2 separate regions of the Homo sapiens genome follow, and region 2 is linked to region 1. Evidence: fine-mapped expression QTL. Tissue or cell type: whole blood. Region 1 holds a variant in brackets; the other region holds the start of a gene. All regions are shown on one strand. Distances are from middle to middle.

Region 1 (6,060 bases):
CTCTCTAGCTTTAATTAGATTCCTGAGGCTAGGGACATGAAGAACCACAGACTTAGATTCTCTTAGATTTGCACAGTACAACAAAGCAAACATTCCAATATCCCTCCCTTTGTTATAGTCGAGAAAAATCTTATAAAAATGTCTTAGAAAAAGGAAATTCTCTGTAATAGGTAGTACAGAATTTGTACACAGTTTGTCCAGGAATAAATATACTTCGTGGACTCTATATTTTTTACATGTAAATTATTCTAAGTCCAATACATTTATACTTATTTGGCATGGCTAATGAATGGCTGTTCTAGTTAAATTAATTTGTAGGTTAATTAAGAATAACCAAATATACAATATAAAAACATACATAAAATACAGTCAACTCTTACTGTTGAACCTATATGGAAAAAAGAACTATTTAAAGAGATTAAATTATTGCTTTTCTTATATATGATACACTTTTGCTAGAGAAAATTCATTGTATTGGGTTTTTTATTGCTGCACAACAAACCACCTCAAACATGATGGCTTAAAATAACAATGTATTATCATCTCCTGATTCTGAGGGTTGACTGAACTCAGCCAGGCATTTCTCACTTGGAGTTGTGCCCGGGGGTATGGAATCATCTAAGGGTTTCTTCACTCACTGTCTGGCACCTGGGCTGGGCTGGCTGGAACGGTGAGAGCTGGTGAAACAAACATCTCTCCACTTAGCTAGCTTGAGCTTTCTCTCTGCATTTGGGTCTCACAGTAGTTGGACTTCTTAAGTGGCGGTGGGTTTCCCCCAGAGCAAGTGTTTTAAGACAAGCAAAAGCTGCAAGGCTCCTTATGACCTAGTTTTAGGAATTTTACAGTAGCACTTCTGCTGAATTTTACTGATGATAGAGGTCCAGCTCATTTTCAAGGAGAAGAAAACAGAAAGGTGTGACTTCTGGGAGGCATGATTCATTAGAGAGCTATCTTTGTAGACTAGCTGCCAAACATACTAATACTTCTATGTGATTCCTGCCAGTATATTTTCTGTTCATATCTAACTCTGTGGGAATTTTAAGCATACCATATATAGTTTTTTTTACCTGTGTTTCTGTTCAGCATTGTATCTGAGGAATTTCCTATGGCATTAACATTTATTTTAAAACATTTCCATGGTTTTAACTTAATATCACTTTTAAAATAGATTATTTATAATAATTATCCTCATAATAACTGACATAATCTGAGTGCTTATTTTTGCCAAACACAGTTCCAAGACCTTTATAACTATTAATGGATTTAATCCTCATAATGACCCCAGGAACAGGTCCTATATGATTCCCGTTTTGCAACTGAAAATCCGAGATACAGAGAGGCTAAGGAACTTGCCCAAAGTCACACAGCTACCATGTGGCAGAATCGGAATTTGAATGCAGGCGGTCTGCTTTCGGAGCTTGTGCAATACTGCCCAGTTACAAGGCATTTGGGGACTCTATGGTAACTACAGGGTCACCACAAATCTTTACTCTTTTTTTTTTTCACATGGTACATTATTACATTTCAGGGGTTTGAGGTTGTTCAGAATTTTAATAAGTGAGAGTTCAGAATTTGGATAAATTTTGACAAATCAAATTAGCTTCTTTTTGAACCTTACATATAAATTTATTTAAAATCTTGCAATGTGGAAAGTCTTTTAAGCATGGCACTGAACTCAAAAGCCATAAAGGAAAATTGAAACACCAAATTAGATTTCTGCAGAGGAAAAAAGTATCCATCAATATGCATTCTAATTATATCTAGAATTAAAAGGAGCCTTAGAAATCACACCCTTCAACCTTGTCATATTAAAGATGATTAAGTAGCCACCACATATTTTGCTCAAAATTACGGTTAGTAACAAACTTGGGTATGGAATAGAGTCCTCAAGAATCCTAATCCACTAAACCTCATCATTTATGTGTCTAAATCTATATGTTTGAGATTTAACTTATTTGATGACCATTATCTGTTAAAGAAAAATAACTTGCGTTCAGAAGCAGAAATCAAATGCTTTAAATGGTATGCCTGTTTAGCTATATAATTATTGGATAATAATTATAAAATTCAATTCTGCTTTTCCTCAGGATTTCTGCAGAAGTTCTTTGTCACTGAACTGATATTGTCTCTGCTATTATCTGGAAACTCAGACCTTCCACTGAGATAGGAAAAAAAACCCCAAATAAACGTCTAAAATTAAGGCATAAATATTATCTCCCTTCCTGGAATACTCTGCCTTCCCTCTGCTGCCTGGTGAACCTTGGAAGCTTGTCACAAGGTTACCTTCTATGAGGAGCCCTCCCCAATACCCACTCTGCACATCAATGATGGCATTCATCATGTTACACTATAATCAACACTTGTAATAAGCATATTTATGTATTTTTCTTTCTTCTGAGACTCTGAGATCTTTTAAGAAAAGAACCATCTTAACATTCATGTTTATACTCCTAATATCAGGCAAGTACCAGAGGATTCCTAACTACAGAAGTAAGTGTGTGTGGGAAAAAGCTACCAGGCAAGACTTACCAGGTGACCATAAAGACCAGAGGTTGGCAAACCACAGCCCACAAGCTAAGAAAGGTGCTTACATCTTAAAATGGTAATGTAAGTATCAATATAATAGCCTTGATTTTGTCTCTTGGTGCCCAAAGCCTATAATATTTACTATCTGGCCCTTTAAGAAAAGGTTTGCTGAATCCTGATATGTAGTATTTAATAACTACGGGACAGTAACGTAATAAAAATACAATTAGTTATATATAATGCACTATTACTAGAAAGTACCAAAAGAATAATAAAATCATCAATTTAAGAGACTTTGTTTAAAGCCTATGCAGTCTCTGAGCAGAGTGAATATTACAAAATGATTTGTGATCAAACTAATGAAAGACAACATAAATACCTTTATGTATCTTTTAATCACAGTGGATCCCCAGCCATGATGTAACTGCCCTTCAATTACTCTCTGGCCTGGGTTCTCTATTAGTATATTCTATGAGCCAGATGATGGGTCTCTTTACT[C/T]TGCCATCTCTTTAAAACCTATCTATATGTGCCTTTGCTATTGCTTTTATGATTTTAGCACACTTTATTTTTAGTCTCTGAATAAGATGTTTTCAGGCTCACTTGGTCTGCTTGTTAAAAGAGCAATCGCAGGGTCACAGAAAGACACTACAAGCCTAGGGCTGAAAGCCACCACTGGTAATATTTTTCCTCATGAATGTCAAAGGAAGTTGAAAGATCCCAAAAATGCACATGATGACATGATGACATGATCAGAAAGAACTAAAGAGCTTGTAGCTTGAGATGAACGAATAAAGGCACTATTGCCTAAGTACAGCCTTACAAATTAACTGTGCAAGAAATAGGAATGTTTTCCTTGGTACAGCAAAACAAAGATGCCTCCAGGTAAAACCTGGGACAGGTTTTAGGGGCTAGCTTCAAAGAGATACACTGTAGCTTTCATTTCAAACGGTTTTAAAATGTATTTGTGAAGCATAAAACATTTTGGGAGGGTTTTGTTTTCAACAGAAGTCAGCCCACTGACATTATCCTTACTTGAAATCTTCCACCTCCTTCAGAAGAGAGAAGCTGGAAAAAATTAGGAGAACTAAAATGGGATGCCTCCGGGCAAAGCAGACTCAGAAATGTGGCAATGCTTATTCCTTTGAAAAAAGTTACAGTTGACTTCTCTAGCTTTGAGGCACAAAGAGATCAGAAAAAATAACAGGAACATAGAAATCATAAGCTAGATATTAGGGGTCATTAACTATCAATGTCTTAAGGAAATCTGCCCCACACTGAGGACTGAAGTGCTCAATTATTTAACAAACGAAAGACCTGGAATAGAACTTTCACTGTGTTTCTTCTAACCTGGTTTTTCTTCTGTAGTAGGTAGCCTAACAGAATGCCGAGACAACATTTCAGTATGTATACACTATGCTAAACTCAGCTCCCAAATCAATATAAATAACAAAAATAATCTGTGATGGGAACCCAGTCCTCATTCCATAATGATCAGTAATGAGGCACAGAGTAAAGAAAGCCTGGGGCGGCTCTTTATAGCCTCTGCAAGGAGTGGGCAGAGACTCAGGTAGAAATACAGTGGGAACCTGGGCACGAGGGGTTCACAGTTGAGTAATGGCTGGGTTCCCAGAATATTCTACTCTAAGCAGGGCTTTTAACCATCTAAATTCCTCTTTTTTCTTCTTTGGTCTTATTTTTGCCTTTTTCACACTGCCTGCTTCCAATCTAATGCAACAAGTTTATATATTTTGGGTATTTTTTAGAATTAACATATAATCATAATAAAATACAATCATATATACTTTTCAAACATAAAGATGAAAGACTTTTTAAACCAAAAATTAAGTAACTCTTTACCCGGTAAGCATGAAAAAAAATCTGAAAAATAAGGTTATAAACTTAGTCTTTACCTATATAATATGGACATATGTATCTATCATCTATCTAATTAAAGATTGTAAAGGATTTTTTTTGCTTTCTCTCTTTAGAATACATTAAGTCCACCATAAAAAAGAAAACATTTACTTCTATAGCTATAGACTCTATTGATCTTAAAAGGAAATGCAGGTACAGAAATATTTTTTCCCATGATTTCTTAAGACATATGATCCATTTATTGAGTGCATACCTTCAATCTTTCAGAATAAAGTGGAAGAAATCTGCTGTAGGCAGGGAATAGGTATAGTTATTAATGCAGAGATATCAGCTCCCAGAGGATCTGAATAAAACAATATTGTAATAATGAAACTATTTTCTAATAAAAAATTACATTCTTTTGACCTAGGAAAAAGTTTGTTAAGAAAGCATATGACATAAGTGATCAGACTATTTATTTTTAAAAGGAAAGATGTCAATATAAATCCAGAGAACTTTAAATTCTAGAATTACTCAATAAACAAGAAGAAAACATTTAAAATCCAATTTAAATGAGACAAATATTTTGCACACAATTATTTGGCAAATGTTAGCAATAAACACTAAATGCCCTATGTGTATTCAATGAAGAAAAATGTGAGTAAAGAGGAAACTGCACTAGACTTCGACCAATTAACAGTTTATCTAAAAACTATGGCAAAGAAAATGTTTTGCCCTCCAGATATAAAATCCATTTAAAACATCAAAAGGAACTTTATCTAAATGTCTCATGCCAGCAAATTAAATCATTATGGAGCAGGGTAGGAGGGATGGCAGAAAGAAATTCATAATTTGCAGGTGACTTCATTAAGAAACAGCTGTTGCTGTTGATGTAAGGAGAGTTGCTATTCCATTTCTACTGAAAAGCTTCAGAGCACAAAGTTCTGTACCAGAGTAGACACACAGATAAAAGTATATTACAGGATATGGTCTCCAGTGTTCCTGGGTGGTATGGACCCAAATCAGACAGTCTTGAGTCAAGTCTTAGTTGTGCAATTTCCTTGGGTAAGTGCTTTAGTCATTGAGAGACTGTTGGCTTATCTATAAAATGATCACAGTTATAACACTCACCCCATTAGGTAATTGTGTGAATTATATGCAATGATATATGTGAAACATTTAGCACAATGCTTTACACATAGTAAAAATTTTGTGTTAGAGCTATTTTTACTTTAACAAGTTCCTCTGGCCTAAGTACAGGCAGTTGATTAACCACGAAATGCTATGGGCCACACTGCATCATGGAATTGCCCTGCATGGGCCCAAAATGCAAGATTTCCCTTATCAAAATGCTACTTACCTTCAAAACATATTTTGAAACATATGCTATGAAAAAACCCTAAAAGTCCTACTGAGCAGGAGGCAGGGTGGTTCTACTTTTTGTTACTTCCAGGAAAAAACACTGGGCTAGATGGTCCAATGGTCTATTAGATCATTCTCAAAGGACTGAGCAGAGAAACTTGGGGTAGCTATTAGAACCTTGGGGACCACAAAACCTAATCTCATTGTGCAGATATGAAAATGAGGCCTAGAGAGGCTGACTTGCCTATCATCATGACATAATGAGGAAAACAGCAGGATGGAATGAAAATCTTGGTCTCTTTGATTTTTTCATTACAC
Region 2 (5,507 bases), 160 kb before region 1:
CTTTTCAGATGGAGTCTTCTTCTGTCGCTCAGGCTGGAGTGCAGTGGCACAATCTCGGCTCACTGCAACCTCCGCTTCCTGGGTTCAAAAGATTCTTCTGCCGCAGCCTCCCAAGTAGCTGGGACTACAGGCGCGCGACACCACGCCCAGCTAATTTATTTTTTGTTTTGTATTTTTAGTAGAGACCGGGTTTCACCATATTGGCCAGGCTGGTCTCGAACTCTTGACCTGGTGATCCACCTGCCTCGGCCTACCAAAGTGCTGGGATTACAGGCGTGAGCCACCGCACCCAGCCCTTTTTTTTTTTTTTAATTCCCCTTCACTTGGTGACTGTACTTTCAGTATTTTTTAAACTGTCAGAATGTACTTTTTAGGCCAGTGTTTTTATTTAACTAAAACTTCATAAAAACGGATACTGACGTCATATACTAGTCAATGAAAAATAACTCTTCCCAAGCTCAAACTTAGGAAGTGCTGCTTATTGATGTTTCTCAGGTTCTACATTAGCAGCTCCAAGAGAGCTAAGGCTGATCTCATATACCTGTGTATGTAACCTAGGTAACCAGCACTATCTTGCACTTTTTGCTGAACCCACACAGACGGGTCACTAGGTGATGGAGACATCAAATTCAATCTGTTATCTTCTCCATTTTTACTAGAACAGACCTTACCTACATACTTCAGAAAAGAACTTATATCTGTATCGTGACCGTCAAAGGAAGAGGTCACAATACAGAAATCTAAGTATTTGCATGAAACAAATACTCAGATAATCCTATATTTTATTTTCTTCCATGCACATTAGGTTTTTTGTGATCCCATTTAGTAATATAGTTAGAATACTCTATACAATATTGTTTATCACTATTTCACATAGAGATTATCATTGAGAATTTTGTTTTGTTTTGTTTTGAGCCTGTCGCCCAGGCTGGAGAGCAGTGGCGCAATCTCGGCTCACTGCAAGCTCCGCCTCCTGGGTTCACGCCATTCTCCTGCCTCAGCCTCCCGAGTAGCTGGGACTACAGGCGCCCGCCACCACGCCCGGCTAATTTTTTGTATTTTTAGTAGAGACGGGGTTTCACCGTGTTAGCCAGGATGGTCTCGATCTCCTGACCTCGTGATCCGCCTGCCTCGGCCTCCCAAAGTACTGGGATTACAGGCGTGAGCCACTGCGTCCGGCCGAGAAATTTTTTAAAAACTTGAGGGAATTACTTAAAGTTTAAATTCTATAATGTGAAAAATACTAAAAATATGTATAAGTGAGATCTTTCATGCATTTAATTAACAGTGCTAAACCATGACTTTCTAAACCATGACCAACGAAAAAATTTTTAAAAAGAACTTTATTACACGAAGATTCCTAGAACTAAAAGCGTCATTGCCTGACCTAAAGAATTTCAGGTAAGTGAGGTTCACCTCCTGATTTTAACCAAAGGCTTCGGTTTCCATCTGAATGCCAGCCGGCTTAAGAGGAGGCTGCTGCTTTAAAGGAGCGATATAAACGAAAAAGTTCTCAGGTCACAAACTTAGCTCAGATTCCAGCCCCGACAGATCTTGAGCCCATGTGGCATCGCTTTCAGAGCTTCCCAGTCTGTGAGTCAAGCCCCCGCCTCCTCCCCTCCCCGGGACTGCCTCGGGGATGAGGTTTACTAACAATTTCTCCGAGTGCCGGCGGAGCCCAGGAGCGCTGGAATCCAGCGTCTGGGAGAGGCTTGGGGAGCTCTTCCTCGGCTTCTGCAGCCGCAAAGTAGGGTTGCCAGCGCCAGGATCTGCACACAAGCCGCCGCCACCTCCCCTGCCCCCAAATGGCTGGGGTACGGAGGGAAAGGAGGACGCGAGGGTGTGCCACCCAACCCCGCAGAGTGAAGCCGAGGCCCCAAGGACCGTCGAGGAAATCGCGGCTGGGCCGGCCAGATCCGACGCACGGAATGCGATCTCCAGGTTCTCATCGTGTTCCCGGCTCGGTGCTCGGCGTTCAAGGGGGTGGGGAGGATCGAAAAGCTGCCCCTCGAGGCTGCTCCGCCGCCGGGGAAGCCCGTGGCTCAGGCTTCACGCGTCAGGCGCTCTCTCGGAGTCCAGCCGAGCCGGGCCCGGGCGCGCAACCCGCGGCGCTCCGCTCTCAGCCGGGGACGTGGCTCTCCGTCTCCCGCCCGCGCCGGGACAGCCCCGAAGGCTACCCGCCCGAAACTCCCGAAGAAAGTTGCGCCGCGCGCCCCAGCTCGTCCCTTGCGCGCCCCTCCACTTACCGCTCCCAGCCGAGGCTTCGTTCTCTCCGGCGTCGCCTCCGCAGCCTCCAGAGCCAGCTCCCGGTCCTCCTCACTCCAGGGCGCCCGGGCTCCCGGCCCCCTCCGAACCGAGCCCTCCGCGCCCCCGCCGCGCCATGCCCCGGGATGCGCTGCTGCAGCCTCGGGCGACGCTACTGAGAGCCGGGCCGGCGGGGGCGGGTAGGTGTGGGCGAAAGGGGCGGAGGGAGGGACGCGGCGGGCGCTGAGGCTCCGCTGGAGGGGGGAGGAAACCGCAACGTCACCAGAGCCAGAGGAGACGAGGATGAGGAGAGGGAAACGGGGACCCCCTCCCCCGGCCGAACCCCGACCGCAGGCCCGCCCCGCTTTCTCCCGCTCCTCCTCTCCCGGGACTCGCCGCTCGCAGCTGTGCTCGGCCTTCCACGCCACCCGGCCCGGACTCCACCCGCACCCCCGCCCGCCAGGCCTCTTTGGCTCTAACTTGTTCTAGTTTCTTAGGACTCAAACGCTTCGGGTTCGAGAATCACACCCAAAGGAAAGGTAACTTTTGGAGGCCCAGGGGGAGGAGCTGATGCTTCCATACTACTCTGCGAGAGGAAAGCGAGGAAGACGTTAAGACTCTTACTACCGGGACTGGTGCCCACTCCAGTCTGCCTCCTCCCGAATAGTTACTGCCTCTTTTCTCTCGAATTCGGTTTTACTCTCTTCTCAAAGAGAAGTTAGTGGGAGGGGGGACTTTGGGGCGGGGGTCACCTATAGAGAAGCAGTTCTCTTTTTTACTGTACCAACAAAATACACTAAATCCAAGCGCACCGAACCCTGCAAACGGAACAGATTTTAATCACAGAAGGTCAGGAGCAAAGCATTTAATGTAGGCAGCTCACAAACAGAAATTTATCTTACGCGGTGGGGGGGTGTGTGTGTGTGAGAGAGAGAGATCCCTCATGCACCCAAGTTCAGGTGGAGCATTTGCAACCTTGGTAGTCACAGCCTCCTGGAGAAGAGTCCTCCTGTTTTCCAAAAATCAGCCACTGCTCAAACACGCTCAGCCAGGTCCAACCAGGCCCCAAGGAGATGTGAGGTAGGATCAGGGCCATCACCTCAGGAATACTTTGCCCCTTCCACCTCCACCCAGTGTGTGCAAGTAACCTACCAGACCTAGATTGTACAGAAGTGAAAGATTTGTAGGATACTTACCCATTCATTAGAATGAGAGATATTTTACTGGGAGCAGTGCTTTTCTCCATGAGTTCTGAAGGGCACCTCCATCCAATTCCTCTATCCTCAGAGGTTCTCACTTCTATTTGGCCAAATAAGGAAAAAATGTGGATGTCTCAGTTTATGCTTCTCTTTTTCAGAAATTGCATTTAAGAGGAACTCCTTACAAACAGGTCAAGAGGAAGTGGTACTATTAAATTTTTTAAATGTTCACTCAGGTGAACCACTAATTTGCATAAACTTCTTGATGCTTTAGGGAAGGCCTGTCGAGGAGAGAAGAGGGCTCTGGAAACTGGAACTAATCTTTGGTTCAAATCCAAACTTTGCTTTTACTACTGTGGGCCTTGGAAAACTAACATCAGAACCTCAGTTTCCTCATCTATAGTGTAACAATATAATACCTTGTTTGAACAGTTATGGAGAGGATATAATAAAAATAGCTAATGTTTATTGAGAGTTTACTACACCATATCAGACGGTCACTGTGCTAAGAGATTTACATATACTAATTCAATTATTAGAATAAATTGTGAAAGTGTCTAGCTGTATTATGTAATCCGTAAGTGTTAATTTCCATTTATCTTCTCAAATTTGAAAGAGACTTTAGAAAAAACATCTGGTTTAATTTACGTAACCTCTCAGCAAGTAGTAGTCTAGTTCAGTGATTCTCCAACCTAGAACTTTAGAATCAGCAGGGGAGCTATAATAAATTCTTTCCAATGGGGACCCCCACGCAAGAACAACAAATCAGAATCTCTGAGGTTAGGGTCTAAGCATCAGCATCTGCATTTTAAAATCTCTTCCTAGATGATCACAATGTACAACCAGGATTGAGAATTCTTCAAAGGAGGTAGTACTGACTGTCATTTGCTCCCCTTTACCCTCACACCCCCCACAATTTTGCTTTTGAGTGACCTGCGAATTGGCCTCTGGATGACATTCACTTTGTGCAAAGCCCCCCCCGTCCCCCCGCCCCCGCCCACCCCATTACAGTAAGTCTCAACAGATCTGCTATTCTGCTCTCTGGAATCTACAGGATACACCTAGCCTTGATTCCACAGGAGAATACTTCAATTTACCTGGGTACATATTAACTCCATCAGCTTTTCTTCATCCATTAGGAAAGCTCTCAGGAGGAGATTTACTTTGCCAACATCTCTCTCAAACCCTGATGCCAAGAATTGAATTCAAGGTTTCACCCAAGTGACAAACTAGAAAGATGTTTAATGGCTTTGTTGTAATTACTGTATTTCCCTAAGTATATCCTTGGAGCTTCCATGGCAGCAATATTACCCAGCTGACTCCATATTACAATCTACCAAATAAAACCTTAAAGTGTTAAAAGTTTAGTTGGAGAATCACTGAACTAAACAACTACACTCAATGCAGTGTTCAGCACTTTACCTGTGATTCTACTGAATTTTATTGTGTTAAATTAGGCCTCTTAGCTTGTTGACATATTGGGTATCATTGATATAACTGAGTAATTCCACCTCTCAATTTCATGACCTCTGTAAATCCGGTCTGTATGCCATGCCATCATTTAAGTTCTCATTCTCAGGTACCTTCCTCTGCCAACCGACACTGGATTTGAATGCTACTGATGAACATTCTTATCAGTTGAGGACCCACATGTTACCTTGTCCTATTTTTGTCTGTTGTCCCAGGGTAGCAGCCTGTGTACATGGGTACGTGGCACTTTTGTAAGAATTAGAAAAAGGTATCCCCACTCTCACCTTAGCTGAAGGATTAGGAAAAAGTGACCCCTTACGCCTAGATGCAGCTCCAAACAGACAGCAGATGAGCTTTGTCTATTGGATGTCTTTGCTCTACTGTAATATTGTCAAAAAACAAAGGAAATGACTACTTAGTGAATTGTGGTTCATGTCTACAAAATTGTGTCTTCCTTTTCTAAGTATCCAGATGTCATTTTAATAATAGGTTTATTCATTTTGTTCAGTATCTGTGAAAAGTTTCTTGCCTCGGTTTCAGACTAAGGCAAAAACTGGAACTCCATCTGTCCACCTCCAGTTTTTTAGTGTTCAT

The links. PIP is the estimated chance that this variant, and not a neighbour inherited with it, causes the effect.
Region 2: DSE starts here. The variant in region 1 is fine-mapped to the expression of DSE in whole blood (TOPMed, PIP above 0.99).

Annotation. Positions count from the first base shown.
Region 1 is chr6:116,205,810-116,211,869 of GRCh38, reverse strand. The region is part of intron 6 of NT5DC1 (5'-nucleotidase domain containing 1); the gene reads right to left. It also overlaps a transcript of COL10A1 not described here. Among named protein-coding and RNA genes, the nearest start is that of TSPYL4, 45 kb to the left of the region's middle. The variant C/T (reference allele first, on the strand shown) is at 3,025.
Region 2 is chr6:116,367,861-116,373,367 of GRCh38, reverse strand. DSE (dermatan sulfate epimerase) reads right to left here and starts at 2,421. Exons shown (of 6, transcript NM_013352.4): 1 at 2,247-2,421. It overlaps LOC100287467 (a long non-coding RNA gene), which reads left to right and starts at 1,649. Exons shown (of 1, transcript NR_148944.1): 1 at 1,649-5,507. RefSeq lists enhancers at 1,550-2,050, 3,565-3,614 and silencers at 2,048-2,342, 2,105-2,634.